Linked DNA regions of Homo sapiens: all the other regions are reported to be linked to region 1. Evidence: microRNA targets listed by miRTarBase, many of them from high-throughput screens and not tested one by one. Region 1 holds a microRNA gene; each other region holds the end of a gene's coding sequence.
What was found. The annotated mature microRNA hsa-miR-122-5p reads UGGAGUGUGACAAUGGUGUUUG and lies in region 1 at 2,589-2,610, shown strand. An mRNA with a match to its seed (bases 2 to 7 or 8) in the 3' UTR can be bound and repressed. Matches are read on the target gene's strand: a 7mer-m8 pairs with bases 2 to 8, a 7mer-A1 pairs with bases 2 to 7 and ends in A, and an 8mer does both.

Region 1 (5,512 bases):
TTGATGCAATAATACCATAAAATTATTGTACTGCATAATAAAGTATTTCACTAATAATTTGCTAAAAAATTAGCCTGAGGCCTGCCACTCAGCACAGCACTAACTTTTCATGCTTGTGACAAGTTGTATATGAGCAGGATGGGTTCCAACCTTCCCAATTTCAGAAGAGTATTTTGCAAGAAGGAATTTGTATTGAGAGTCCAGAAAGAAAATTGCCTAAAAGTTTTTAAATCCTCATTTTTCTCAATAAAAAAGTGCCATATGAATCATAAATTAACAAATGCACACAAAAGGAGAAAATGAAAACAAACCATAATTTCTCTACTGAAAGATAACCATGGTTAACATTTGATGTTTTGGCCTCAGGCATGTATGCATTTTTTCACAGAAAGGGACTCATACTGTGTATATTGTTTTATAAACTGTTTTTTAATTCAATAACATATCTTGAATTTCCAAGTCTACCAGACTTTTCTACAGAATCAATTTAAATAATTATGGTCTATCATAAATATATTACTCTTCTCCTATAGCTGGACATTTAGGTTGTTTCCAATGTTTACCCTTATAAACAATGCCACTATGAGCAACCTTATAGGTAAATCTTTCTACAAATTTTTGACATTTTCCTGGAGATAGATTTCTGGGCCATAGAAATTGAGGTTGATTTGGGGTGGGGGGAGTTGGTAAGATTTACCTGTAAAGGTTGATTTGGGGGGTGGGGAGTTGGTAAGATTTACCTGTAATGCATTAACTTCCTCATCTCTTTTCATCTTCCATCTGTTCCTTCCCTTTTCTGTATTTTGCAGATTATTCAAAGCCAAAAGCCAACAGAGCCCCCATGGAGAAGTGGAGGATGCTCAGATACTGCTATGGAGCCCTGAGAAGTGAAATGGGTCCAAGCCCTTGCCCAGGATAGAGCGCTCCAAGCGCATCCTCCGGGGACCCTTTTAATCAGTGAATTGTTCACCTCTCACTGTTTCTTCCCAGCAGAGCTAAGAGACTTCTAGAGCCTCTTGTGGATGGTCAGCGATAGCCCTGGTATGACCAGGAGGTGGCGATTTCTGTTCTAGGTCCCTCAGCAAAGACTAAGCAGGACAAGCCTGGCTACTGTGTTAGGAGGAGCTGTAGGGAAAGGGAAGGACAAGATGGGCCACCACATGCCTGTGTCCACTGCTGGCCACACCCAGAGTGCTAGGGGTTTGTGGCAGTGACTGGGGCCACCTAGAGCAGTTCTAGGGTTCGTAGTCATTCTCTCTGAGTCATGGAAAACTGCCCAGGAGGCGAGTCCCACCTAAGAGAGTATGTGTAGCACTGGCACGGCCTGCTGCCTTGCAAATGACCACATTTCATGAAAGAAAGCCAGGGCCACAGACAGGAACCAAAGGAAATCAGTCACTTAGGGGAAGATAACGAATCCACAAAGTGAAAAAGGGAAAGAAAAAAAGAGGCAACTTCAACACTCCAACCCATGGGAGCAGAACGACTTTCAGCTTTCGCAGGGGGATAATCACTGCAAGTCCAGCTTGAAGAGGGTGATTTCAGGATCTACATGAGAATAAGGCGCAATTTTTTTTTTTTTTTTCTGAAAAATACGGAAGGGTTCATTTACAGCTGTTAAAGATGGGCCGGTTTTAGGGCTAAAGCAAGACTCTGGTCAGATGTTAACAACTCAGTTATCCTGGGGAAAAAATAACTGGCTCCCAACCCTTTCCCTTTTCAGCATTTGCAGGAAAAGAAGGAGTAGGTAAAATGCTTTATTTCCTCTCATTCTCCATGGTGGGCAGGAGTTCACATAACAATTATAAACCATCTTTAACAGGAAAGCCAAGTAAATCCTGTAGGGATTTATTTGGAGCTCCCTTTTTGCTAGAAAATGAGTATCATGAACTAAAAATGGACTCGTTTCCTCTCTCTCCATCTTCCTCTCTTTCTTCTCTCCCCTCATCTCCCACCCACCGCCATGGTGGAAAATGACTGTGGTCAAGAAGATTGAACATTTGAGCAAGACCAGATGCCTTTATATCCAATAGATGCCACGGAGAGTAGATCACAACACATCTAACTGCTGTATCCCCATATAAAATAATTTTAATTTTCCTAGACTGCAGAATTGATCACATTTACTGATGATGGATTGGGAAGTAGGTGAAGAGGTGAGAGTTGGAGAGTATCCATTCATTCGGCCAGATTATTCTCATTTATAATGTAGTCTTCCAATAAGTATTTATTTCCAGAAATCTATTCCCTCTAGAGATTCTTTCTCTCTCAGCCATTTTAGAAAATTGTTGCAAACAGAGTTCCTGTCCATTTTCACAGGAAGTTTTTGCAGAAGGGGTTTGCTGGGTGGCAGTGGAACACAGGCAGTGGACCCCTCTACTACTCTACTGTTCCAGAACACAGAAGCCTTTCATTGAGAGTGTTCAGCTCTTCCCATTGCTCAAGATGCTTGTACCCGTGATGCTTCTTTTCTCTGCTTAGGTCACAATATGTGGAGCTGACAAGGTTCCCCTATTATCAGTGACAATGGTGGAATGTGGAGGTGAAGTTAACACCTTCGTGGCTACAGAGTTTCCTTAGCAGAGCTGTGGAGTGTGACAATGGTGTTTGTGTCTAAACTATCAAACGCCATTATCACACTAAATAGCTACTGCTAGGCAATCCTTCCCTCGATAAATGTCTTGGCATCGTTTGCTTTGAGCAAGAAGGTTCATCTGATATCAGTCTTCTCAATCTTGTGTACTTACTGAATAAAGTCTGGCTCTTTTGCACTCATAACCAATATGGTTAGCTGAACCCTGCCTCTCACATGCTGTTGTTACATACCTTAGCTGGTGATTAATTTTCTTGTTTTCCCAAGTCAATAAAAAGATTGCAGACCAGGCACGGTGGCTCACGCCTGAAATCCCAGCACTTTGGGAGGCCAAGGCAGGCGGATCACTTGAGCTCAGGAGTTCAAGTCCAGCCTGGGCAGCATGGTGAAACCGTGTCTCTACAAAAACTACAAAAATTAGCCAGGCATGGTGGCATGTGCCTGTAATCTCAGCTACTTGAGAGGCTGAGGTGGGAGGATCAATTGAGCCCACGAGGTTGAGGCTGTAGTGAGCTGTGATGGTACCACTGCACTCCAGCCTGTGTGACAGAGCAAGATCCTGTCTCAAAAAATGAAAATAAAAAGATTGCAGAGTTCCTCAGAGCCCCCAACACAAGGCCAGGCACGAGGTAATCATTTAACCCATGCTTATAGACTTAAAATGAATAGTTAGGAAAGTGTTAGACGCAGAAGGCTAAGACTGGGCTAAATCTATGTTATGCAGACAGACCGCAAGCTTATAGGTACAAAATTAAGGTGTGTGGGTCCTTCTCTTTTCGTCGTTAAAAAATCCAACTTTCTAATAAACTTACACATGGTTTCACTGACGTTTCAGAAATTCTAGAATATGTTTGATTTCTACTGATTTCAATCAATTACTAGGCTGATTACTGAATTCGTACACTAGGCCTTTCTTCCTCTTGCATCAGTGAATTACCATCAGAAAATTGTTTATGAAGCATGTGTGAGCTGCCATAGCAAATCTGGGACCCATGCAGTTTCTAGGACAGTTGGCCCAGCCAGGTGCTCTGGTTTGGAACCCATTCTGTCTCTGAGAGGTGTCTAAAGTCAGGAGTAGGTTTCGTTTGTGCCAGACTAAAGCTTCCCTCCCCAGGCTTGGTTAAATGAAGTAGGACATGTTTAATCAAATAGACAGGGTTAGATCAACCATCAGAAACAAATTCAACCATTCAACCATTCACTTATGAAATAAATATGTGTAGAGACTACCGTGTGCCTGACACTGTCCTAGGCATTGAAGACACTTTTAAATTAAATGTGTCTGATGTTATTTCCAGAGATGGGCATTCACTGGCTCGCATTATATTTTGGGACCATTGTAATTGTTCCAAACGGGAGCCAAATGAGCAAAACTTTGCGAAATAATTCTGAGTCCCTTGCTGGAAAGCCTCACCTGAATGCAGCCCACACATTTATGATACACTACAAAGGCTTCAAGGTCATGAGATGCCTCTGTCCAAAGAAGAAGAAGAGCACCCCTGCCTGCCCTGCATCTCTTACCACCTCTCATTTCTTCCCTCCTGGCACCATCTACTGTCAAGAAGAGAATCAGACTCCCTGAAATAATTGAGACACTGACATTCCTTTTTGTGTGTATTTTTTTGGCAAAGGCTCTAATTGAACAGGCATTAATAGAGGGCTCTACTGTTATACAGATCACGCTCATGCACACTGTATTAGTCTGTGTTTTCATGCTGCTGACAAAGACATACCCGAGACTGGGAAGAAAAAGAGGTTTAATTGGACTTACAGTTCCACATGGCTAGGGAGACCTCAGAATCATGGCGGGAGATGAAAGGCACTTCTTACGTGGCATCAGCAATAGAAAATGAGGAAAAAGCCAAAGTGGAAACCCCTGATAAACCCATCAGATCTCGTGAGACTTATTCACTATCATGAGAATAGCAGGGGAAAGACTGACCCCCATGATTCAATTACCTTTCCCTGGGTCCCTCCCACAGCACGTGGGAATTCTGTGCGATACAATTGAAGCCGAGATCTGGATGGGGACTCAGCCAAACCATATCACATGCCATTTCATTTGATCCATACAACATGGGGCAAAGATGATCGGTTTGACAAACAGAGTCTAAAGGGTTCTGGAATCGTCTGGTCCTCCAGCCACAACTCAACATGGATCTCTTAAGTCTAAAGTTCTGTCCTGTACCTGCAGCCTCCTTTGGCCTAGTTATTTTGTGAAATCTCATGCTTCACAGTCGAATCTGTGTAGAACCTGGGTTAATCACGCCAGTATGCGATCAATATCCTCATCTCCCCATCTGCTTTGTCAGTGGATTCTGAGGGAAAACCTGTAAATTAGAGAGGGATGAGCCATATAAGAATGTCTCCTTGTGAGTGTTCATTGTGCAGAGAAAGCTGAAAATTGCAAAACCCTGTAATCATGAAATGAAAGAGAAGGAACATCTAAGTGGTAGCTTTGGGGTCAGGAAGAGGGTAGACAAACTGTCCCAACACCAAGCAGCCATCTACATGACCCAGCCACCTGATGTGGCACCAAATGACCCAGAGTCTTGAGGTTCTGAACTGTTCCCAGACTCGGGGACAATGTGAGGACTGGGTCTTCCATGCTCCTTTTCACTCCCACTCACCCTGAGATTTTTCTCAGGTGGAATTAAACAGGGAGCCAAGTGAATAGCATTCTGTGTCTTTTCTGCTAGGTTGGCTCATTTAATGGCTTATTATGATTGCTGCCTGGATTCGTTTTGCATTCGGGATTGGAGACCTGTCATTTCTGTAGATCTCTAAGGAACACACATAGAAGGCAAAGCTTCCCTCTCCCCTTTCTACCTCTAATTACAATCCTGCTGCTCCAAATCTCTGATGATGGCATCTTCCCAGACCAGCTTTTATCTCCCCTTCCCTCCCCAGGATGATTAC
Region 2 (5,512 bases), not on the chromosome of region 1:
TAGTCGCAGCTCCAAGTTCTGCACGCGCCAGTCAACTGCCCGTCACATTTCCGTACACACTGGGCGTCACAAACGGGTCCAATCCACAAGCGCCTTCTTGTCCAGGGTACTGGGGCCTGGGCTGCAGGGCTGTGAGCAGGCATCCCTCACTGGGCCTTAAGGCTTCTGCTGGGGGAGGTAGGCGAGACCCGGAGGACGCACAACTCACCTGAGCCGAGTCCCTCAGCGCGACTGCCGCCATTGAGCTCCGTGGACTAGGCGGGGAGCGGCGGCCGACCGGGGCGGGCATTCGAACACAACAGTCCCTATCCCGGGCCTGGCGCAGCTCACCCGAGGTGGTGTCGCAGAACCTCTGGCCCACTTTCGCGACTTCTCTGTCCCGTCCCTCAGTCGCGACCTCCACTGCAGAAACTGGCGGGCTGGACAAACAGGACAGAGGCCAAAATGACCGCCACGAGGAGGACGCCGGAAGTTCCGGCCCGTCGCGCTGCGCGTGCGCGGAAGTGTTGCTATCCTGGGCTGTCATTGGCTCAACTCCGCCGCCGTTTTGCGCTCTGCACTCTGGATAATGTAGTTTCCAAAACTCCACGGAGCTCTTCGGAGTGTGTCCACTGCTTTGACCTCTGCGAACTTGTATTCTGAGGTGCTGTGCCCCGTGCAGGGAAATGGCGACTTCGGCCTCTAGGGGAGAAGGAGGTATTTACTCCTTCTTAAAGGGGCTTTTCCCAGATTTCTGGGAAGTGTTTTCCGTAACTGATCACTTAAGTGTTTAGAGACATTATTTCAGACTCCACGAAGCTCAGGGTGCCCCTAGAGGCAAACAAATATTATTTCAGGGGGTTGGGCGCGGTGGCTCACGCCTGTAATCCCAGCACTTTAGAAGGCCGAGGCGGGCGGATCACCTGAGGTCAGAAGTTCGAGACCAGGCTGGCCAACATGGCGGAACCCCATCTCTACTAAAAATACAAAAATTAGTCGGGCGGGCCGGGCGCAGTGGTTCACGCCTGTAATCCCAGCACTTTGGGAGGCCAAGGTGGGTGGATCACGCGATCAGGAGTTCGAGACCAGCCTGGCCAACATGGTGAAACCCTGTCTCTACTAAAAATACAAAAATTAGCCGGGCATGGTGGCGAGCGCCTGTAATCCCAGTACTTGGGAGGCTGAGGCAGGAGAATCGTTTGAACCTGGGAGGCAGAGGTTGCAGTGAGTCGAGATCACGCCATTGCACTCCAGCCTGGGCGACAGGGGGAGACTCCGTCTCCAAAAAAAAAAAAAGAAAAAAAAAATTTGGATTTTGGAGCATTTTGGATTTTAGATTTTTGGCTCAGGGATATTCAACCTGTATTTTGTTCTCATTAAATAGGTTCCTCTTTCACTTTGTTATTGTTTGATATACTAAAGTTTTAATTTTCATGAAGTCTAATTGGTCTATTTTTCTTTTGTCACATGTGTATTTGGTGTCAAATCCAAGAAATTATGGCCAAATTCAATGTCATAAAACTTTCACCCTATATTTTCTTTTAAGTGTTTTATAGTTTTGGGTCTTATGTTTAGGTTTTTAGTCCATTTTGAGTTCATTTGTGTTTTTGGTGTTAGGTAAGGGTTCACCTTCATTCCTTAGCATGTGAATATTTCATTTTCCCAGCATCATTTGCTGAAAAGATCATCGTTTCCCCATTGAGTGGTCTTGGTAGCCTTGTTGAGATCATTTGACCATATACATTACTATTGCAAATGATATTGTTTTCTTAATTTCCTTTTCAGATTTTTCATTGTTAGTGTATGGAAGGGCATATGAGTTTTACATGTTGACTTTTGCATGTTGACTTTGAATTCAGCTACACAGGTGAATTTGTTTATCAGTTCTTTTTTTTTTTTTTTTTCCCAGACGGAGTCTCACTCTGTTGCCCAGGCTAGAGTGCAATGGCTTGATCTTGGCTCACCACAAGTTCCACCTCCCAGGTTCAAGCAATTCTTCTGCCTCAGCCTCCCAAGTGGCTGGCACTACAGGCGCCAGCACCATGCCCGGCTAATTTCTGTATTTTCAGTAGAGCGAGGGTTTTACCATGTTGGCCAGGCTGGTCTTGAACTCCTGACCTCAGGTGAGCCACTGCGCCTGGGCTTTTTTGTTTTTGTTCTTGAGACAGTGTCTTGCTCTGTCTCCCAGGGTGGAGTGCAGTGGCGCGATCTCAGCTCACTGCAACCTCTGCCTCCCGGGTTCAAGCGATTCTCCTGCCTCAGCCTCCTGAGTAGCTGGGGTTACAAGCATACACCACCATGCCCAGCTAATTTTTGTATGTTTAAATTAATCAAAGTTGCCAGCAAAAAAAAAAAAAAATATTAATTCCTCCCTTAGAAGTTACAATAAACATCTTTTTAAAATTTTTTTGAGCCTGTCACCCAGGCTGGAGTGCGGTGGTCTGTTCTCAGCTCACTGCAACCTCTGCCTCCCAGGTTCAAGTGATCCTCTCATCTCAGCCTCCCAAATAGCTGGGATTACAGGCGCATGTCGCCAAACCTAGCTAATTGTTTTTTTGTATTTTTTGTACAGATGAGGTTTTGCCTTGGTGCTCAGGCTGGTCTCAAACTCCTGGACTCAAGTGATCTGCCCGCCTCAGCCTGACAAAGTGCTGGGATTACAGGCATGAGACACTGTGCCCAGCCTAAACATCTTTAATCTAATTCGACCTTCAAATAACTACTGGATTGCTTCACATGTAATGCAGGGACCCTGTAACAGGACCTTTGGGGATGAATTCTTTAGTATTTGTGTGAGAAAAGCTTTATTCTCCTCCACCTTTGAAAGATAACATTGCTGGATATAGATGTTAGGGTGGGGTTTTATTTTTTGTACTAAATTTTGAACTTTCACTCCATTCCCTTCTTGATTATCTGGTTTCTGACAAGAATTCTACTCTAAATCTCATCCTTGTTCCTCAGCAGGTAAAGTGCCCTCTCCCACCTCCATCTTCTTTCAAGAATTTCTCTATCTTTGGCCTTCTGTAGTTTGAATATGATGTACCTAGTTGTAGGTTTTTGGTATTTACACTGCTTCCTCTTCTCTGAGATTTCTGGATCTGTGGTTTGGTGTCTATGATTAATTTTGGACCTCCAAGTGGAGGTTGCAGTGAGCCAAGATCACACCACGGCACTCCAGTCTGAGCGACAGATCAAGACTCTGACTCAGAAAAAAAAAAAAAAGCCGGGCACGGTCACTCACGCTTGTAATCCCAGCACTTTGGGAGGCCGAACCACTGCGGCCGGCCCCATCTCTTTTTTTAAAAAAGGATATCAACATTATGGATTCATTCATTTATTCAACAGAAATTTATTGGTTCTTGGAAATGTTCCACTTTCCCAACCACTTGGAATACTTTAGTGAACAAAACTGACAAATTCCATGCTCTCCTTAGCCTTACATTTTAATGAAGCAAGACAATAAATTGAAAGCATAATCAGGAGATTATATCTTATATCCTAAGTAGATAAATACTATAGGAATATACATACTTGCATACATATTTATACACATTATCAGACCAGCAGCTTAGGAAGCTTCTGGTGTGGAGGGAACACTTGGCAGGGTAATTTTCTCATGAGTCCTCATATGGCGGTGGTATGTGGATGACTGGCGGTAGCTTGTCTTACAAAAGGGACATGTATAAGGCTTTTCTCCTGTGTGGATTCTCTCATGAGACCGCAGGTTGGTTTTGTGGCTGAAGGACTTTTTACACATGCTGCATGTGAAAGGCTTCTTTCCTGTGTGAATTATCTGATGCACCCGTAGGTCTGATATCTGGAAGAAGCCTTTTTGACACTCGGGACAAACAAATGGCCTCTCATTCCTGTGTCTTCTCTGGTGAGCTAATAAGTGACAGAGATACTTAAAGACCTTGGGGCATTCTTCACATTTGTATGATTTTTGGACTCCATGGGATCCTTTCTGATGTACCTCACATGTGGAATTTCCCTCATTGCTCTGGTGGGTAAGGGCAGACTCAGGGGAGGACTGCTCTGGTTGAGAGATACACCCTGCTCCCATCACCATAGGGACACCTTGGAAAGTGATTCCATTTATGGACCCTTCCTGAGATCTAGCAGTGACTAGCTCTGCTCTTTTTGAGTTGTATGGGTTGTCAGAAGAAACACCTCCCTCTTCAGGCCTAGGACCGTTCTCTTCCTGGATGATGATTAGGGAAACTATTTGATTGCCTTGATTAGTAATATTTTCATTTACTCGAGTAGTTTTCGAAGAACTGTTCCAGCCATCTTGTTCATCTTCATATCCTGTGAAAATAGACACTCAATGAAGTTGTACTTAAGAAGGGGTCCACATAGAACACTCCTCAGTTGTGCAGATTCACCTGACTTACCTTGTCCTGTTTCTAAGGAAGTATCTTGGGAAGTCTGGGAGGGTGTCCCCATGTTTGCTTCTCTTGTGGTTTGGGCATTCACTTGTTTTGTGAGATGAACAATGACATCTCTTAAGGGCATATCCTCAGAAAAGAGAGCTTCCTGTCCCTGCATGTGGACGTGGACCTGTAAAGAAAGCCAGATCACTGTTGTATCTGAATCTGTTGTGTAACAGAAGACTTTTTGGAAAAGTGGTCCTTAACAGGCTCTCACAAGCTCCCTCAAGTATTGGCTATCACATATTTTGTCCACCATCTCTGATGGTGTTATTCTTGTTACTACAAGCTCTTATGTTTAATAAAGTCACATGGACATTGAATTTACAAGTACTGAATCATTTCCCCTAGGAAAAATTCAGGGTTAGTTTCCTGTGAGCTTCTGGCTACATTATTTTTGTCAACTGATCAATACATGAGTTTGTTTTATGTGTGTATATGTTCAAAGACACCCCATTTAATATATATTATTGATTAATCCTGAACTCAGAGGATCCAACACATGTATTATCTCCATAATACATAGCAACTTTCCTGCACTTAGGAAGACTAGACAGTGTTTCAGCATTTTACTTCAGTGTCACTTTAAACAACAAAGTTATCAATAAAAAGCAAAAAAAAAAATGTGCCACTAAATAGACTGTGAAAAGGACACTTATTTACACTGTAGGAACCAAAATAGGAAGTGAGGTTGTGGCCTTGTTCAACCTCACCTGGAAACATGCACCTAAGGTAAATCAAATATTTTACCACCTGCACATATCTGAAAATGACGGAGAAGATGCCTCAGGTATTTATTTTAAGCTTACAAATAAATTTTAGCAATTTTGCAAATATGGGCTCTGAGAATAAGGATCTACCGTAATTGCTTCTTTAGAATGTCTTTCTTGATTAGAGTTCCCTGACAGAAGAACAAGCTCTTGTCAAGACATTTCTTCCTCAACCTTGATGTCTTCATTTAAATGTCAATTTCAGGCTGGTCTCACACCTGTAATCCTAGCACTTTGGGAGGCCAAGGCAGGCGGATCACTTGAGGCCAGGAGTTCGAGACCGCCTGGCCAACATGGTGGAACGCTGTCTCTATTAAAAATACAAAAATTAGC
Region 3 (5,512 bases), not on the chromosome of region 1:
AACAGCCCTCCAGGCCATTGTAATGTATGGGAAAGTTTGAAAAGCTGCCCTCGGAGGCCTGGAAGGTATACTGAATTTATGTCACTTCAAGCAGTTTGCTTGTTTTAAGATATCTCTGCTGAAAGTGTCCTGAAGAGGACTGGTTCTTTGAAGGTCTTAGTTATGCTTTTTCTGTGAGTATTTAGAATTAATTAAACGAAATGGCTGCAGATTTTAGCCCCAAAATGGAAAAGTTAATGAAAGTCACAGTGTTGTCTCTTATAAAAATTTTAAATGGGCTGGGAGCGGTGGCTTACACCTGTAATCCCAGCACTTTGGGAGGCCAAGGCGGGCAGATCACGAGGTCAAGAGATCGAGACCATCCTGGCCAACATGGTGAAACCCAATCTCTACTAAAAATACAAAAATTAGCTGGGTGTGGTGGCACGCCCCTATAGTCCCAGCTACTCTGGAGGCTGCGGCAGGAGAATCGCTTGAACCCCGGAGGCAGAGGTTGCAGTGAGCCGAGATCGTGCCACTGCACTCCAGCCTGGTGACAGAGCAAGACTCTGTCTCAAAAAAAAAAAAAAAAAAAAAAATTAAATGGCATTGGTTTCATTTCAGAACAAAAGTAGAGTATTTCATTATTACTGAAATTATAACTTTGCCACTGTCCTTCATAAAAGAAACTGAATAAAATATGTACCATTGGCCGGGTGCAGTGGCTCATGCCTGTAATCTGAGCACTTTGGGAAGCCAAGGTGGGTGGATCACTTGAAGTCAGGAGTTCAAGACCAGCCTGGCCAACATTGTTAAACCCCATTTCTACAAAAATTACAAAAACTAGCTGGGTATAGTGGCATGCCCCTGTAATCCTAGCTACTTGAAAGGCTGAGGCAGGAGAATTGCCTGAATCCGGGAGGCAGAAGTTGCAGTGAGCCGAGATCGTGCCACTGCACTCCAGCCTGGGTGATAGAGCAAGACTCTGTCTCAAAAACAAACAAACAAACAAATACACGCACACACACACACACACACACACATATATATACTGTAATGCTTAATACCTAATTATATATATTATATATTTATGCACACATATAGTATAAAACATTTTTCTGCATTTCAGGTCCAAACTGCTTTGCAGAAACCGCGGTGATCCCTGCTGGCAGAGAAGTGAAGACTGACGAGTGCACCATATGCCACTGTACTTATGAGGAAGGCACATGGAGAATCGAGCGGCAGGCCATGTGCACGAGACATGAATGCAGGCAAATGTAGACGCTTCCCAGAACACAAACTCTGACTTTTTCTAGAACATTTTACTGATGTGAACATTCTAGATGACTCTGGGAACTATCAGTCAAAGAAGACTTTTGATGAGGAATAATGGAAAATTGTTGGTACTTTTCCTTTTCTTGATAACAGTTACTACAACAGAAGGAAATGGATATATTTCAAAACATCAACAAGAACTTTGGGCATAAAATCCTTCTCTAAATAAATGTGCTATTTTCACAGTAAGTACACAAAAGTACACTATTATATATCAAATGTATTTCTATAATCCCTCCATTAGAGAGCTTATATAAGTGTTTTCTATAGATGCAGATTAAAAATGCTGTGTTGTCAACCGTCCTCACCGTGTACCTGCATATCTTTTTCAGTTCTGATTCCATCACCCAGGAATGTTCCCCCTGCACATTTTCACAGGGCAGAGTCACGCATGAATGGATCATAAGATATTAGGACCAATTTCCACTGAAACCCTGTTTAAATTCTATTTAATTACAGACATATCTCTAATGTTGATGTCTACTTCACATAAATATATTTCCTTTTTATAATAATATATGGCTTTTATCTGCTTCATTCTCAGTCACTTGTGAAATGCAGGTGTAAAGATCACTAACTCACACTTTCTCAGTTCTTTCCCCTAAGCTCCTGTATTGTACACCATAGGTAAGCACATACATATATTTCATTCTTATTTACATTATTTTCTCTTCTAAGGATAACTTTAATTCATTCCCTAAACTGAGGAATAAAGTAGGCTGGAAAATTTGCATTACTGTTCCATCAAGCTGAAGCAGACAACAAAATAGGGGAGGAGTCCTTCGATTCTCCTAGGATAGTTAAGGAAAATCAAACTCCTAAACAAGTTTATATACCTGAAATCTAAATGTGCTACAGATAACTCAGCTGTCAGTTCAGTGGAATCATATTTGTCATCAGACTTGAGTCATCTATCCTCCATAAACTACACAGTAAAATCTTGACTGATAACCTTGAATTAGCCACCCTTCACAAGCAGAGTGAGGAAGCAGTTATTTTGTTAAAACAAAGCTGAAGACCAAGTGCACTCCACAACTTTCCTATAGTTATAATTCCAAACCAACTTCTTTTCTCTTCATTTGAACAGAGAACATAAAAAGCCACTGCAAAGTCCTGCTAATCTAATTAATGCATAATAGAAAATAGTTCTACCTTTATCAATCATATCAGCATGCGGTGTGTTGATGAAAGAGGTAATTGGAGTCTTAATAGGTGTAGGATAAAAAAAGCAAAACTATAATCACTATTAATGTCTTTAAAGGATTAAAATATATATAATCATTATTTGAAGCCTCTAAAGGTATTTTTCATATTTTTGTTTATTCTGAAATTTTGCATTAAGAACCTATTAAGTACAAAGCATTGACAACAAGGGAATAAGGCTTGATTTCTTGCCTTCTTGGACTTTCGGTCTCTGGCATAAGAAGTATATGAAATCATAATGTATTGTATTAGGAGCCAAACTAGAGACCAGCAAATGGAGATTAGAAAGCCTTCCTAATGAGAAGATGGAGAACATGAAAAAATCATTATATAAAAAATAATTCAATCATTAAAGACTGAATAACATTCAAGAAAAATGGATACATCTATCATAATTGAAAAATTAAACTATTGTGAACCTTAGTAAGTATAAAGATGCCACTGACTGAGTCATCAAAACACTACATATAGTCATTTAATTTTTGTCTTGTTCATAAAGAACACCTTGAGCCAAAGGAACTACCAGTACATAGATTTCATGAAAATACTCAGGGGAATTATTAGCTAATTGTTCTCAGGTGTAATCAGCTTTCCAAAATTTAACCTTTGTATTAAAGACTGGTAGACATTGGCCATCCCTCCTTTATTCAAGGATGGATTGTTTGAGACACAGTTATTTAAAGTTGTCGTTTTGCTAATAAATGGCCCTAGCCCCCATGGGTAGGTGGGCCATTAGTAACCTCTTCTCTCTCCATCAGGCATGATGCAGTTAGAGACTCAGTCCATGCAGCTCAAAGTCTTCCTGTTTCCCTTAATAATAATTCCTACCAGAATGGATGATGAGCTCTGAAATAATTGCAATGGTGTTTTCAATGCTGTGAGAATTTCAGAAAACCTAGTATTTTGTTGCATATAGAGAGAATGAACCCAGTATCATCTTGGGAAGTTAACTGACTCACTTGCTCTAAACTTAGTTTGACCTGCAGGGTCACCAGCACACACTCCTAAGAGCTAAAGCTCAATGGCTGTTATTACACCAAAGTAACTCCCCTCCCCATCTCTGATTTCAACCCCCTCATTCCTCTCTCCTCATAGAAATAATGCATAAACCAAACACATGGAAGAACTTGGATTTTTGACACTGTATATACTCATTAATAATAATGGCATTATTTGCATTTTTGTCCAAGATCAACTTCTTCTTGCAGTTAGACTTTCACAAATACATAGCTATCTCAGATTGACATTCTATTTTCCTCCCCTCTGTTGTCAGAGAACTCTTTGCTGAGATTGTCAACAACAAACTGTTCTATTCAATAAATAACCTGAATAACTGCCCAATAAAAAAGGAAAGTATAAGTTACTCAATTTCAAAATAATATGGTTTGGAGATAGCACAGAAAAGGGGGCCTCAGAATTCAAGTATAGAAGTTCTGGAAAAGCCATAATCACTAAAATTCAAATAGGCCTGCTCTATAAGTACCTAATAATTGTTAAATGATTTGTTCAAGTTAATAAACTAAATCGTGCTTACAAATGTATTAATGAATTTATTTCAAATTTTCAACCCATATTTAGATCTGAAAGTATAAAGCTACTTATGTAAGCAATAGAATGGTTCTGGAAATTATCTGATGTCTTAGAGGTTTTCAAGTTAAATTCATTCTTTCAGTGATAGGATATTTACTTGTTGGGTGGATTAACAATACTTTTTATTGACATTTCCCAGAAGTCTTGAGAAAAGTCATTTCAAAAACTTGTATTTCATCCCTGCATGCAAGAAGTATTAGATGCACTCCAGTCCAGGCAAGTCCTGCTATAATGTTGCAGCTAGTGCAGATGGAGAGGCACAGTGTCCTTGACATCAAGGGGTCTGTAAGCCTTGAAACTAATTTAGGTTTGATTATAATACTTTTAATCTTTTGATACTTAGAATTTCATCACCTGCTTTGTGCAGTAAAACATGCTAAGAAGAATTATCATGCAGTTTTAAGTTCATAACATCAATAATATGTTTAATAAACTTTCTTCCCTCGTTCTCCAACATAAATGTTGCATTTATATAAGGTTAAAAGTCCTAAAAAATCATAAAATTCAGATGTTTAATTTTTGTTTTTAAGCAGTGAAATGGGTTTTTAAATGTATACATTATCTGAAACTTACAAAATATACACTGTTTCAAACAAGCATTGTTGGAAACTAAATCCATTATTTTAAATGTGGACTATTTAAACATGTAGAAAACAAAATTATAGACATAAACTATGATTTTAAAAATATTAACAATTTGCTAAATTTGCTTCAATGGGCAAGAGATCAATCCTACTTTTCATTGTTATTTTTAATATCATATTTTTCCCCAACATAATGTTATTATGAAGAGTATCAGATGTACAAATAAGCATCATTGGTAAAAACATACATGCTTCTTTGGCCAACATAATTTGTAACTGTCTTACTGAACCTACTTACCTACTATATTTTTTTTCCTCACTAGTAGCATCTGATGGTTGATACAGTCAGTAACTATTCTGAAGAATCAGATTAAGAGAGAACAATTTACTTATTCAGGAATAAGTGCATTTTTACAGTACATATTTTTCACATTTCAGCTGCAACTTCCAAAGATCAGGTTCTCATTGCTCCGTAGCACAGATTAAACAGCCTACTTATGTCATATCCTCACTTCACACCAACTTCTTCAGTCTATTATTTTAGTTTTCTAAATGTAGATCTAGTTTTCAACTGAATTCTTTGAGGATCGCAATCACACACAAAATAACATCCAAACTCCTCAACATGGAAGACTGGTGTCTTCACAATTAGATCATGGACAACACCATGACCCAGGCCCCTGTGGCTGGTGAGACTTCTGGGCCCTGGGTACCACAGACTATACTCTAAACATGGTCTTTACTATCTCAGATCCTGCCCTGAGTGTCCTTTGCAGCATGTTGAGTATTAGCCATTTTCAATGTCCAGTTCAAGTGCCATT
Region 4 (5,512 bases), not on the chromosome of region 1:
AGACACACTCAGCCTGGGTGAAAAGCTTTTTTTCCTTTCCTGGTTTTTTTTGTTTGTTTATTGGAGACAGGGTCTTGCTTTGTTGCCCAGGCTATAGTGCAGTGGTGCAATCACATCTCACCACAGCCTTGATTTTCTGGGCTCAGGTGATCCTCCCACCTCAGCCTTCCGAGTATCTCACACCACAGGGGTATACCACCACACCTGGCTAGTTTTTTTAAAAAATTTTTTGTAGAGACAGGGTCTCCCTATGTTGCCCAGGCTGGTCTTAAAAGTCCTGGGCTCAAGCAGTCCACCCACCTCGGCCTCCCAAAGTGGTGGGATTATGGTTGTGAGCTACCAGGCCCACCTAGCTTTTAAAAATGTCTTGGGAAAAGGGTGAAACAGACTAGAAGTTGATTGTATTGTAAGTGTAGGAAAGTAAGGAGAAAGTTTCCGGGTGTGAACATTCTAGGTTTGAACACTGGGAAGGAGGGAAGGCAGCCATGCATTGTAGTCTCTTAAGTGAAAGTTTATCCAATTTACCAACTGATATTATAGACCTTAAAATATTTTGTAATTGTATAAAGCAAGTTATTATAATTGCCTGTTGGTGTGATGTGTGTATTTTGTGACTCATAACTCAATGGCATTTCTTTCTAAATTTTAAAAAAGTTGCTTTTACCTTACATTTTCTACAAGATACTAAATAATTTATTTCATTTTCAGAATGGTGAGGTTCTGGAGAATTGATGAGGATTATCCAGTGCAAGTTGCACCTTTGAGCAATGGTCTTTGCTGTGCCTTCTCTACTGATGGCAGTGTTTTAGCTGCTGGGTAAATATATTTTTCTCTTTTTTTTTTTTTTTTTTTTTTTTTTGAGATGTAGTCTCCCAGGCTGGAGTACAGTGGTGCAATCTCTGCTCACTGTAGCCTCCGTCTTCCAGTTCAAGGAGATTCTCCTGCCTCAGCCTCCCGAGTAGCTGGGACTACAGGTGCACACCACCAGTCCTGGCTAATTTATTTGTTTGTTCGTTTTTCCAGTAGGGTCGGGATTTCACCATGTTCGCCTGGCTGGTCTCAAACTCCTGACCCTGACCTCAAGTGATCTTCCCGCCTCAACTTCCCAAAGTGCTGGGATTACAGGCGTGAGCCACCACACCTGGCCCATTTTTCTCTTTTCTTTAAGGGCCAATTTAAGGGGGCTTTTAGCAGCTAGTAATTTATTGTCAGTAAAACTCTAATAAGTGTTCTTCATAGTAGTGTTACCTTGTCATGGAATACATCATTGGTTAGTTCTTCCTGGTTGGGTTTTAATGTGAAGTTTGTGACTCCACTACTCACATGTATTGGGTGATAGTTGTTTGAGCTGTAGCAACACTGAAATACATATACTTGGGTGACTAAGCATGTGCTTTGTTTCTGTTTAGGACACATGACGGAAGTGTGTATTTTTGGGCCACTCCACGGCAGGTCCCTAGCCTGCAACATTTATGTCGCATGTCAATCCGAAGAGTGATGCCCACCCAAGAAGTTCAGGAGCTGCCGATTCCTTCCAAGCTTTTGGAGTTTCTCTCGTATCGTATTTAGAAGATTCTGCCTTCCCTAGTAGTAGGGACTGACAGAATACACTTAACACAAACCTCAAGCTTTACTGACTTCAATTATCTGTTTTTAAAGACGTAGAAGATTTATTTAATTTGATATGTTCTTGTACTGCATTTTGATCAGTTGAGCTTTTAAAATATTATTTATAGACAATAGAAGTATTTCTGAACATATCAAATATAAATTTTTTTAAAGATCTAACTGTGAAAACATACATACCTGTACATATTTAGATATAAGCTGCTATATGTTGAATGGACCCTTTTGCTTTTCTGATTTTTAGTTCTGACATGTATATATTGCTTCAGTAGAGCCACAATATGTATCTTTGCTGTAAAGTGCAAGGAAATTTTAAATTCTGGGACACTGAGTTAGATGGTAAATACTGACTTACGAAAGTTGAATTGGGTGAGGCGGGCAAATCACCTGAGGTCAGCAGTTTGAGACTAGCCTGGCAAACATGATGAAACCCTGTCTCTACTAAAAATACAAAAAAAAAAAAAATTAGCCAGGCGTGGTGGTGCACACCTGTAGTCCTAGCTACTTGGGAGGCTGAGGCAGGAGAATTGCTTGAACCCAGGAGGTGGAGGTTGCAGTAAGCCAAGATCACACCACTGCACTCCAACCTGGACAACAGAGCGAGACTCCATCTCAAAAAAAAAAAAAAATTGTGTTGCCTCATACGAAATGTATTTGGTTTTGTTGGAGAGTGTCAGACTGATCTGGAAGTGAAACACAGTTTATGTACAGGGAAAAGGATTTTATTATCCTTAGGAATGTCATCCAAGACGTAGAGCTTGAATGTGACGTTATTTAAAAACAACAACAAAGAAGGCAGAGCCAGGATATAACTAGAAAAAGGATGTCTTTTTTTTTTTTTTTACTCCCCCTCTAAACACTGCTGCTGCCTTAATTTTAGAAAGCAGCTTACTAGTTTACCCTTGTGGTATAAAGTATTATAAATTGTTGTGAATTTGAAGAATCCGTCTACTGTATTATTGCTAAATATTTTGTTTATACTAAGGGACAATTATTTTAAGACCATGGATTTAAAAAAAAAAAAAAAAACTCTGTTTCTGCAGGGGATGATATTGGTGAGTTGCCAAAGAAGCAATACAGCATATCTGCTTTTGCCTTCTGTTGTTTATCTTACCTGCAGATATTAAGAATGTATGCATTATGTAAAATGCTCAATTATATATTTTTGTTGAGTTTTTTAATTAAAGACTTGTAAAAAAAAAAAACAGTATATTGCAAATGTTTCTTAAATAGGTTAGGTGGAGTACTTTCTCTCTGTCTCCATTGTAAGGTTGATGGTACACCACAGGCAAATTAAGCAAAAAGGACAATGAAGAAAGAATGCAGGACTCAGGCGCTGCTCTAGAATTCATTCAGGGCTCCCCGAGTGCAGCAGCTCTTATGGTGGTTTTGTTTTTAGGAGAACTGTTGTAATAATGCATATTTTAAAAGCATAGGGAAGCTCTAGAACACAGGAAGGTGACTACTAAGCAAGAGAAAAGTATCTTTTAGTGGGGAACTACCAGCCTATAGTAAGTCTATCTGGTTAAAGTAGTTATTATGAAAATCTAGCAGTCTGGGTCCTTTGAGAAGGCATTAAAAAAGCAAAACTCTTATGAGCCATGTGTGATTTTGAAGACTCATTTCCACTGAGAAATTATTTGGAAGTTCCTATGGTTAGCTCTGTTAAGGAATGTAAAAATTTATAGGGGGTGTAGGGTTATCAATTTGAAAGCCAGTAGAAAATCTGCTCAAGTTACTTCTTGAGGATCATCTGTATTTTACAAAAAGAAGCACAAGAAGCATCTAATCTTTATACTTCTTGTGACTTTTTTTCCCCTGCATTTTACTTTGTAATATATCGGCTTTATAATTTTAAAATACACTGGCCGGGCGCAGTGGCCCACACCTATAATCCCAGCACTTTGGGAGGCCAAGGCAGGTGGGTCACTTAAGGCCGGGAGTTCATGACAAGCCTGACCAACATAGTGAAACCCCTGTCTCTACTAAAATTACAAAAATTAGCTGGGCATGGTGGTGGGTTCCTGTACTCCTAGCTACTTAGGAGGCTGAGGCAAGAGAATTGCTTGAACTGGAGAAATGGAGGTTGCAGTGAGCTGAGATCACGCAACTGCACTCCAGCCTGGGTGACAGAGTAAGACTCTAAATAAATAAGATACCATTACTTTTCATATCATTGCATTATTTTTGCTTTCCACACCAACATATCCAGTCAAGTAAAAACAGCTTTTTTTATTTTTTATTTTTTATTTTTTTTGAGACGGAGTCTCACACTGTCACCTGGGCTGGAGTGCAGTGGTGCGATCTTGGCTCACTGCAGCCTCCACCTCCTGGGTTCAAGCAATTCTCCTGCCTCAGCCTCCCAAGCAGCTGGGATTACAGGCGCTCCCCCACCACGCCCAGCTAATTTTTGTTGTATTTTTAGGACAGACGGCGTTTCACTGTTGGCCAGACTGGTCTCAAACTCCTGACCTCGTGATCCGCCCGCCTCGGCCTCCCAGAGTGCTGGGATTATAGGTGTGAGCCACCGAACCTGGCCCAAAACAGCATTTTTGGAAGCTACATTCTGTGAGATGTTCACCTGTTTGCCACCTCTTCTCGTGAAAACCATAGTGAGTGCCAGTGTGAAAGGAAGATTGCAGCGTATATGTCAAGTAGAAACATGTTTGAATTTTCCATTTGTCTGTGGGGAAGAAGGTAATAACAGTAATAACAGACTGAAGGACCAAAGGAAAATAGGGAAGACGTTGATTATGGACTTGGATCAGATTCTAGCTACATGATTTGAAAATGACACTGCCTCTCCTATTTTGCCACAAGCCTGTCATTTGGAGAACTGGCAGATCATTTATGTTCAGATTTAATTTTCTGTTTTAGAATCCCATGGAGTACATGTGAACATAGGAAAATCACACTCAGCAGCCAAGCTATCCTTTTGCGATAATGAAATCACTTTAAAACCTATAACTTGATCTTAGGTTGGCAAATCTTAAACTTAACGATCCTTGAAATTTCCTGCCTGCTGTGACTGTGATGCAGTTGGATTCAACTGGTTTACACTGCTCTTGGGTCGGCAAGACCAAAAAAGGTTGGACTGCACTGTAGCATGCTTATGGGTTGAGGCAGTGGCAGAGGCAGAGGACTTGGCCGTCAGCCAGCCAGCACAGGCGTAAGAAAATAGCATGAGAAGTTTCACGAGCCTGAAACCATTGAGACAGTGATTACAACCTCCATATTAATCAGATGAGGGTTTGTAGGTGACATAGCATTTTACCCAAGTAATTCTGAACAGACTGTGGCTTATGATAATACATTTTAACTAGCAAGTGTGTGGACTATAAAACAAATATCTAGAGTTATATATGGATGTACTATCATTTGGTGATAAAAGCATAGAAAAAGCATAAGTTGGAGTATACTGGGTTTTTTTGTTGTTGTTAAATTCTTTTCCATCAGAAGTAAGAGCTGTTGGCAGCAACTAATAAAATGCAACCTAGTGACATGCTCGTCATAACCTTGGCAGATGTTTATGGTAAGATGCTTGGAAGGAATGAACGTAAGTAGGCAATCTCAACCTGCCCTTTGATCCATAAAGCATTCTTTAGCCACCAGCAAAAATCTGGTCTGAGCCAGGTATAAAGTGACCTGTTTTATTACAGGTGGGTGGGGTAGCTTTGTGTGGTTGTTTTTTGACATTATGTATGCTTTTATTTTTTACTTTGAGGTAGGATCTCGCTCTGTCACCCAAGCTGGAGTGCAGTGGTGCAATCTCAGCTCACTGCATACTCTGCCTCCCCTGGTTCAAGTGGTTCTCGTGCATAAGCCACCTGAGTAGCTGGGATTACAGGCGTGAGCTGGGCCAATTTTTGTATTTTTAGTAGAGATA
Region 5 (5,512 bases), not on the chromosome of region 1:
TAATAACCTTTAAAATACTTCTGAATATTGAGAAAGTTACTTTTTTTTTTTTTTTTTTGAGACGGAGTCTTGTACTGTCACCTGGTGGGGAATGCAGTGGCGCAATCTTGGCTTACTGCAACCTCCGCCTCCTGGCTTCAAGCGATTCTCCTGCCTCACGTCTCCCAAGTAGCTGGGATTACAGGTGCCCACCATCACACCCAGCTAATTTTTTTTATTTTTAGTAGAGACGGGGTTTCACTATGTTCATCACGTTGGTCTCAAACTCCTGACCTCGTGATGTGCCCACCTCAGCCTCCCAAAGTGCTGGGATTACAGGCGTGAGCAACCGCACCTGGCCAAGAAAGTTAGTTTCACTTGAGTTTTTGGATGGTGATCTCTGGGTAGATATTGGTGGTAAAGTGGGTGACTCTGGTCAGGGATATTGATACTACTCTGTGCTATTTCATTAGTTTCATTCATGTCTAAGAAGTAAGTTCTTAACATTGATAATAGTTTTTTAAAGCATCACTTAGGAGCTGCTACTCCAGAAAATCCAGAAATAGAGCTGCTTCGCCTAGAACTGGCCGAAATGAAAGAGAAGTATGAAGCTATTGTAGAAGAAAATAAAAAACTGAAAGCAAAGGTAAATTTTTAAAAAGAATTCATATTCAAATAATTTTACCTGTAATAATTGTATGATGAAAACCTCACTGAAATGGACAGGAGGGGAGGGAGGTGGGTGAATATCAATTTGAATTAATTACAATGTAAGGCCAAAGTTATGCCCTGTCAAGAAAACCACAAGACGGGCCTGGCACGGTGGCTTACGCCTGTAATCCCAGCACTTTGGGAGGCCGAGGTGGGTAGATCACGAGGTCAAGAGTTCGAGACCAGCCTGGTCAACATGGTGAAACCCTGTCTCTACTAAGAATACAAAAATTAGCCGGGCATGGTGGCATGTGCCCATAATCCCAGCTACTCGGGAGGCTGAGGCAGGAGAATCGCTTGAACCCGGCAGATGGAAGTTCCAGTGAGCCAAGATCGTGCCACTGTGCTCCAGCCTGGGTGACAGAACAAGACTTCATCTAGGGGGGTTAAAAAAAAAAAAAGAAAACCGCAAGACATACTGGAAATAGGACAAGCAAAGAAGCAAAGTGTGGTCAAGAAGAGGTTCTGGCTGGGTGCGGTGGCTCACGCCTATAATCCCAGCACTTTGGGAGGCTGAGGTGGGCAGATCACCTGCGGTCAGGTGTTCCAGATCAGCCTGGCCAGCATGGAGAAACCCCGTCTCTACTGAAAATACAAAATTAGCCGGGCTTGGTGGTGCATGCCTGTAATCTCAGCTACTTGGGAGGCTGAGGCAGGAGAATTGCTTGAACCCGGGAGGTGGAAGTTGCAGTGAGCCGAGACTGTGCCACTGCACTCCAGCCTGGGCAACAAGAATGAAACTCTGTCTCAAAAAAAAAAAAAAAAAAAAAGAGGTTCTTAGGAACCTGTATTACTAAAAGGATGAGAATATTGGTTAATGTTCTTTATAAGTAAATGGTCAGTTCTGAGGTTCTTAAGCAGTTGATTTTAAGTAGGCCAATATGGGGCGACTGCTTTGTAAATGGCACTTCTTAGAATTTGTATGGTTCATAGTTTGCAAGGCCATATGTAGCGGCCCTCTGTAAATTTGTTAGGACTTAATTTTATCTAGTGCTAAAGTTTTTTCTTTCTTTTTTTGAGACAGGTTCTCTGTTACCCAGGCTTGTGTGCAGTGGTGCAGTCATGTCTCACTGCAGCCTTGACTTCCCAGGCTCAAGTAATCCCCCCACCTCTGCCTCCTGAGTAGCTGGGACTGCAGGCATTTGCCACCATGCTCGGCTAATTTTTAAACTTTTTGTAGAAATGGGGTCCCATTATGTTGCCCTGGCTGGTCTCAAACTCATGACTCAAACGTTCCTCCTGGCCTGGCCTCCCGAAGTGTTGGGATTATAGGCATGAGCCACCTCACCCAGCCAGTTTTTTCTTTTTTCAAAGTCCTGTGAGAATTTTCATGAACTTCAAATTAGTCAACTCTTAAGTCTTTCAGGTCTTACCACATTCTTAATCACATAATGTATTTTACATTACTCTAAGTATTTCTCATAATATATTTTATCTTCTCAACAACTTTGTGAGATAAGTGAAACAAGTACACAAGCCACTTTATAGGTGAGGAAACGAAAGCACAGTGAAGTCTAATAAGCTTCTCAACTCCAACAGGTAGTTGGCAGAACCCTAATGTTAGCCTAGTGTTCTTGCAAGGAACCACACTTAGCATAAAAGAAAATGCAGTTATTTTAAATTATCCAAGATTCCACAATGTGTAGTGCTAGTTAACTCTTTGGAACCTTTTAACTCAAAGACATTAGTAGTTGTTTATTGGCTGGTTAAGTTAAGACATGTCACTTAACTCTTTATCTACTTTTCAGTGGGTATTTTCAGTAAACTTTTGCTGGAGAGGAAGAAAGTTCCTTATAAGCAAATGAATCTTTGGGAAGATATAGTTTATTGCATATCAAGTATTTGAACAGTGCAGTCATGAACTGGAATGAAATTTTAGTTTCAAAGCAATTTTAAAGGTTTATATAAAAAGGGCTTTCATTAGATTTGATTGTATTAAATCTTAAATCACTGAATGATTTAAAATGGATAGTTATAGAAACTGATATTAATACAATTTACTGACAGTAACTAAGTTGAATATAACAGTTACCTTGTTTTACTATTTTTTACTCAATTTAGAATAAAATTCACCTAAATTCCTCTGTCTTTGCCCCATAGCTTGCTCAGTATGAACCACCTCAGGAGGAGAAGCGTGCTGAATAGGATTCTTCTCAGTTTGAAAGACAATGAAAAATGGTTTTGTATGACTTGAATAGTTTGTATAGTATATAATCTTTTCTGAACAGATGCTATAGAACTCTTTTAATATGTTTAATTCACCTATCACACTCTGTTAAAAACACATAGAATCATCAATAAAAACTCAATATAACTTTCTTTGGGTCTTAAAGCAGGAGAATCCAAAGTAAATCCTGAACAAAACCTAAACACAGCCATCTAACTCATTACCTTAAAAGACATTCTGTTTATTAGTCTGATTAGGAATGATGGCACTGGTTGTATTTTAGCCAAGACAGTTTAGCATGGAGCTATTCCTTGGTGCAGTTCAGGATATGAACACAGGTACAGTCATTCTTTGAAGGTGACACTGTTCTGTATATTCCCTATAGGCAGCTGGAGAGATCTGTGTGACACAAGATGCTTTTGTACGGGTTCCCATGAATCTTCTGCTCTTGTTTGTGTGACATGGAACAAATAACTTCTTTGCCACCACTTTGCCTTAGATAACTGTGTGTGTGTGTGCCAGTTTGAACTCTGACACCACATTTTCCTTCTATGCAATCATGCCTGTCTGATAATCTTGCATTGCTTTCCTCTGAGCTTTAGTGGGTCCTAGTTGCACACTGGCCTTTCTGTGCTGTTTTTCAATTTGCCTAATAATAGCAGTTACCCTGATTGTAATTTATGTAACTTTAAACAGGATCACACTGTACCCCCTGCCTGCCTTATTTGCTTACTGAGCACAGGACAGAGGCAATATACAACTCTGGGTTCACACACAAGCTGAGATGAGAAGAGGAATGAGCCATATATTGGGGAAAATCATAGTTTGTAGGTATAATTATATAGTGCTTTTCTCCCTCAAAGTATTTTTCTAGCCTTGAATTCATTTTATCTTCATTATCCCTGTGAAGTAGGTGGGACAAGTATAAGGGGAAGAGGGGTGCTGAATTTTTAGGCCAAAGACTGATATTAATACAAATCACTCACTAACTGTAGAGCCTTGGGCATTATCAGTGAACTACTCTGAGATTTACTGTCTTCATCTGTTTAATGAGTAGAATGTCCGTGATGCCTACCTCACAGGGTTGTTGTGAGGGTCAAATGAGAATGTATGTGAAAGATTTGTAAATGGTAAAGCACTATATTCTTGTTTGTTAGTCCTTTTTCCTTTCTTTGGGTAGACCTACAGTCAGATGTTTTGTTTTATGGATCACTTATTTTCCTTACTGGTAGACTGTCGTTTTATAGACATATTCCTATTTCATATATTCTCTCCCTGTTGTTAGAGAACCTATCTTTGTTTTTGGTCAAAACACACATAGAAAACAAAATGATCCAATGAAAACTGGTTTAACTAGCAAAAGCCTTGGCACCTGTTGGAGACTATGACCAAGCCAATAAAAAGGGCATTTAAATCAGCCCTGTTAGTAGGAATGTGGCTATGGCTGGTGCCTCTTCTAGTCACAAGTTTGTTTTTGGAGGGGGTCCAGAAGATCATTCCCTTGCATAGATTTCTCTTTTACCAATTTGAGTGCCTCCTACATGGGCAGCAGTGGACTAAGTGCTGGGTGTGATAAAGAGGAATGACTTAATTATGAGACTGTATATAATCAAATACAGTGTGGGTTAGGACCTGTGGCAGACCATTATAATAAAGCATGGCCCCGTGAGGGTTTTGAAAGAGAGAGAGACTTGGCTTCCTTAGTTGGTATGATAGTTTCTTGGTAGATACAGGTTGAAAATTTTTTGTGGCAGCCAATCCTCATGGGCTTTTTACTCATTTGATTAGTATTAATATTTATGTCAGTAAGCCAGGTGACTGTGACTGTCTTTGGTACCATCCTTTTTGAACAGAAAGGCAACATGTGGGTTGGATAATCACACTTTTAGGTGAAACTGACTTGCTTAAACTGTAACAGTCAGTGCTATTTAAGAATTCAGGATAAGCTTAGCCTCTAGAGGTCCTCTTCAACATTTCTGTCAAGGATTTGGATGAATACAACAAGATGCTCCATGGAAGAGAAAATGGATAAATGGATCCCACCAGTTAAGCTCCTATTATGCTTCAGCTGCTTTGTCTATAAAATATCGACTTCACATCTTGCCTATCTCACAAGTTGGTTGTAAGAATCAAATTAAATATAATGGATGTAAAAGTGCCTTGCAAACTGTAAAGGATTACATACAGACCAGATGGTGGTAGTGCCAAATCTGTAAGTGACACAAATTGGAAAGTCTGGTTGGAAGACTATATTGAAACAAGCTTTAAAATGATTAACCACGTGGAATACCCAAACTGCTGGGCCTAAACCAAAAAGTTGAAGTATCAAGTCTTACATTTAGGTTAAAAAATGCAGTTATACACATTTAGGCACTAGGATTGCTGACAAAGTATTAGTTACAGTGATTATCAATGTGACCCACCCTATGGATGCTTAAAAAAAATTACATTCTGGAAAGCAGGAATAGAAATACTGTCTAGGTGTTAAATGGTCATTCTGAAAGTTGTACTGTTTAGTATTGCTTTGTAGGAGTCAGATGTTTGATGGATATTGACAAGCTGGAATGCATATAAAGAGTGACCAATAGAGGATTTGAATATATAAGGCTGGGCTCTCCGATTTGGTACACACTAGCTGCAAGTGGCAGTTAAAAA
Region 6 (3,000 bases), not on the chromosome of region 1:
CTAAGTTTCTTTGGGGGTTACTTCTTTATTTTTTCATCTAAAGAAAATCAGGCATAGATGTTTGTGTTAAATGAGAAACAGATACTCTTGTCAGTAAGCCTAATGTTCACTTAGCCAATGAGCACTTCTGTGGTCAAAGAACATATCCAATGTGTCAAATGTGGGGAAGGGACCTCTGATATGACATTTAAAGATCAGTTTGGAGTCATAAGACTTACTGGAAACATTTATTTGCATAAGTAAAAATAAGATGTTTCATTTTTTCATAATAGAGATGTACATCTCAGATGTGCACCTCAACAATTAGATATTGCTATAAAAGAACACATTTTCAAAATATGAAACAATGCCTCTTGAGTGAGTTTTATAGCAAGAAAATTGGAAAATGAATGATGATATATATATATTTACATATGTATTTTGTATATATGTATATACACATATATATTTTGTGTATCTATGTACATACACATATGTATGTGTGTGTGTATGTGTGCATATGTATATTTGAGTCAGAGTTTTGCTCTGTCATCCAAGTTGGAGTGCAGTGGTGTGATCTTGGCTCGCTGCAGCCTCGACCTCCTGGGCTCAAGCAATCCTTTTGCTTCAACTTCCCAAGTAGCTGGGACCACAGGTATGTGCCATCACAGCTGGCTAATTTTTTATTTTTATTTTTTTGTAGAGATAAGGTCTCACTTTATCACCCAGACTTGTCTTGAACTCCTGGGCTCAAGTGATCCTCCCACCTTGGCCTCCCAAAATGTTGGGATTACAGGTATGAGCCACCGTGCCTGGCCTCTGTCAAGAATATTGTTATGTGATAGCACAACTTGTAACTTGGGTACAAAGCCCTTTTACTGATAGATGAGAAATGAAAAGGGAAGAATCACAGCACTTGCCACTCAAACTTTCTCATAAATAAGGTAAAATTTTAGTTTTTTAACTTTAATGTAGATATTTGTCTTCACATATTTATTTTCACAATTCATATGCAGTGAAAGAAGTAAATGCCCTCAGATGCCATTCAAAAACTATTTAATTAGGATGAGATCTTGTTAGGATTTTTTATTTTTAGCCACTCAGGCTAATTTTTTTTCTGATTGAGAAAAAATATTAAGCTGCATAATAATTCAAATAGTGTGTTCAACTTTTGTGTCTTTATAAACTGAATAATGGATGGACATGGGATAATATTCTGCAATTGGGATTATCTCTTTTATCTCCTCCATCTAAAGGCTCAATGGAATTAGAGGTATTTATATGAATTTTAGGGTTAGAATATATTTCAGTCCTTTCTCATTTGAGTAAGTAAGTGTGAATGAGTATATAATTCCAATATGGCATGTATAATGAAACAAATTTACATTCCCACGTTCTGAAGCTAGTTTGGAATGCTAAATATTTAGACATAGATACCATATTTTTAATCAGACAATATAATCTCATAGCCACATTTTTCTCTTTTAGTTTCTTGACTCTGTCACCTTCCCCTTCTCCCCTTGTAAAGCAATTTTGTTAGTTTACATTTGCTTTTCCTGGACAATTTTGCATGGGAAACTTTTATCTACCTCATGACTATCAGAACACACCATCATCTTGTAGCTTTGATGCCATCCTTTCTTTTATGTGTCCCTAAAGGATTCATGAGGCATGTCCCAGATTGTTTATTGACTTGACTTCTCAGGACCTTTCCCAGTCGTTGAAAACTGTCTGGGGTGTTCTGAGAAGTAAGTTTACTGGAAGTCAAGGAACTCTCTACTTGTCCCTCAAATTATAGTCAGTCCTGTGGTGGGCATCTGTGTCTGGATTCTGGGAATGTAGACACTGCCACTGTTGCCACTTGATCACACATTGAGGTATTGGTGTTGGGGAGAAGCTATCCAATAATACTATCTTAAATAATAGGAGTATAAATGGTACAAATGCAGCAAGTTACCCTGATTGCCTTTGGTCAACATGACTTTCCGTCCTCAACTTACAGTATGTTTCCAGGTTTCCTTTCTATCCATTAGGAGGGCAGGGGTCACAGCTGACCAGACTGTCTTGTCTGTGTCTGTACCGGCAAACAGATGTTTTAGCAGGTGGTTTCTTCTGATTATGGCAGGTTAAATTAAACTATTTTGAATTTAATGTACATTATGCTGATGAGAACTGGATCGGTTATTTAAAGGACTGAGATTCATCTCTATATGAACCACTTTATTTCCTGCTAGGACATCCTTTTGCTTTTTTGAAGATATAAACAATGTCTACTTCTATCAGAAAAAGATAGACAAATTATGTTTTTGAAAATTGAAGATATTATTTCTTATTAACAGACTGAATGAATGGCATTAATATTGATTATTAATGCTATAGAGAAATACAGAGAATATAGTTTATCATAAAAAGATGAATTTTAAAGCATTAAGTGCATTTTATTTTATTGTATTAGCACATAAATTGATGAAGCCACATGGTGAAAATCTGTGAGAAACTGAAGGTTTTCATTTGTTTTCTGTGCCCCACTGTATATCACCTTTCAAAATAATGCTTTCTGCTGGGTCCAAACTTCACTTGGAGCAAAGAAAGGTAGTTAAAAGGTTTCACTTAAAGCTACTTCGTTATGGTGCTACTGAAAGTAAGTAAAAGCAAACAGCAGTAACATGGGACTTAAATGAGCAAGAGAAGGATTCAGGTGAAATAGAAGCTGCATTTGGGGATAACTGAAGATTGACTTTCTGATGAAAGGCACAAAAAAGGATTAATTGGCTTATTCCAAACAGAGGGCAGTTCTTTAGGAAGTATGCTTGAGGATATACTTGGCAATAAATTTGACAGCTAGCATGGTCTCTCTGCACGTTGGCTTTATCCGGGATTCTGGAAGGAGAAAACCAAATTTGCCTTTATCTCGGAGCTCAAAGGCAAATGTGTGTTTGATGCCCAGGTCATAAGCCCAGTCTAAAGAAGAACCTGATATCGGGTCTGTAAAACACAAGCAGTAAATATTTAATTAGAGAC

Region 2: miRTarBase lists ZSCAN4 as a target of hsa-miR-122-5p. The part of its 3' UTR that is shown has no 7-base or 8-base seed match.
Region 3: the mRNA of VWC2 is a reported target of hsa-miR-122-5p. Seed matches in the 3' UTR shown: 7mer-A1 at 2,340-2,346, 7mer-m8 at 3,516-3,522 and 7mer-A1 at 4,311-4,317.
Region 4: miRTarBase lists WSB1 as a target of hsa-miR-122-5p. Seed matches in the 3' UTR shown: 7mer-A1 at 2,205-2,211 and 7mer-A1 at 3,740-3,746.
Region 5: miRTarBase lists MYCBP as a target of hsa-miR-122-5p. The part of its 3' UTR that is shown has no 7-base or 8-base seed match.
Region 6: the mRNA of CPA3 is a reported target of hsa-miR-122-5p. The part of its 3' UTR that is shown has no 7-base or 8-base seed match.

Annotation. Positions count from the first base shown.
Region 1 is chr18:58,448,500-58,454,011 of GRCh38, forward strand. It overlaps MIR122 (microRNA 122), which reads left to right and starts at 2,575; the gene lies at 2,575-2,659. MIR122HG (MIR122 host gene) reads left to right here. Exons shown (of 3, transcript NR_170245.1): 2 at 810-1,041; 3 at 2,320-2,782. MIR3591 (microRNA 3591) reads right to left here and starts at 2,653; the gene lies at 2,581-2,653.
Region 2 is chr19:57,676,941-57,682,452 of GRCh38, reverse strand. ZSCAN4 (zinc finger and SCAN domain containing 4) reads right to left here. Exons shown (of 5, transcript NM_152677.4): 4 at 4,374-4,539; 5 at 3,301-4,287. The coding sequence ends at 3,548. ZNF551 (zinc finger protein 551) reads right to left here and starts at 476. Exons shown (of 3, transcript NM_138347.5): 1 at 209-476. The coding sequence starts at 289. RefSeq lists a silencer at 36-105 and an enhancer at 161-784.
Region 3 is chr7:49,910,926-49,916,437 of GRCh38, forward strand. It overlaps VWC2 (von Willebrand factor C domain containing 2), which reads left to right. Exons shown (of 4, transcript NM_198570.5): 4 at 1,109-5,512. The coding sequence ends at 1,260. It also overlaps a transcript of ZPBP not described here. Among named protein-coding and RNA genes, the nearest start is that of VWC2, 140 kb to the left of the region's middle.
Region 4 is chr17:27,310,801-27,316,312 of GRCh38, forward strand. It overlaps WSB1 (WD repeat and SOCS box containing 1), which reads left to right. Exons shown (of 9, transcript NM_015626.10): 8 at 709-816; 9 at 1,410-5,126. The coding sequence ends at 1,569. Among named protein-coding and RNA genes, the nearest start is that of LINC03146, 19 kb to the right of the region's middle.
Region 5 is chr1:38,861,993-38,867,504 of GRCh38, reverse strand. MYCBP (MYC binding protein) reads left to right here. Exons shown (of 5, transcript NM_012333.5): 4 at 496-625; 5 at 2,791-5,012. The coding sequence ends at 2,835. The region is part of intron 1 of RRAGC-DT (RRAGC divergent transcript); the gene reads right to left. It overlaps GJA9-MYCBP (GJA9-MYCBP readthrough), which reads left to right. Exons shown (of 3, transcript NR_037637.1): 2 at 506-625; 3 at 2,791-5,015. Among named protein-coding and RNA genes, the nearest start is that of RRAGC-DT, 4.9 kb to the right of the region's middle.
Region 6 is chr3:148,896,484-148,899,483 of GRCh38, reverse strand. CPA3 (carboxypeptidase A3) reads right to left here. Exons shown (of 11, transcript NM_001870.4): 11 at 2,281-2,964. The coding sequence ends at 2,777. Among named protein-coding and RNA genes, the nearest start is that of CPA3, 33 kb to the right of the region's middle.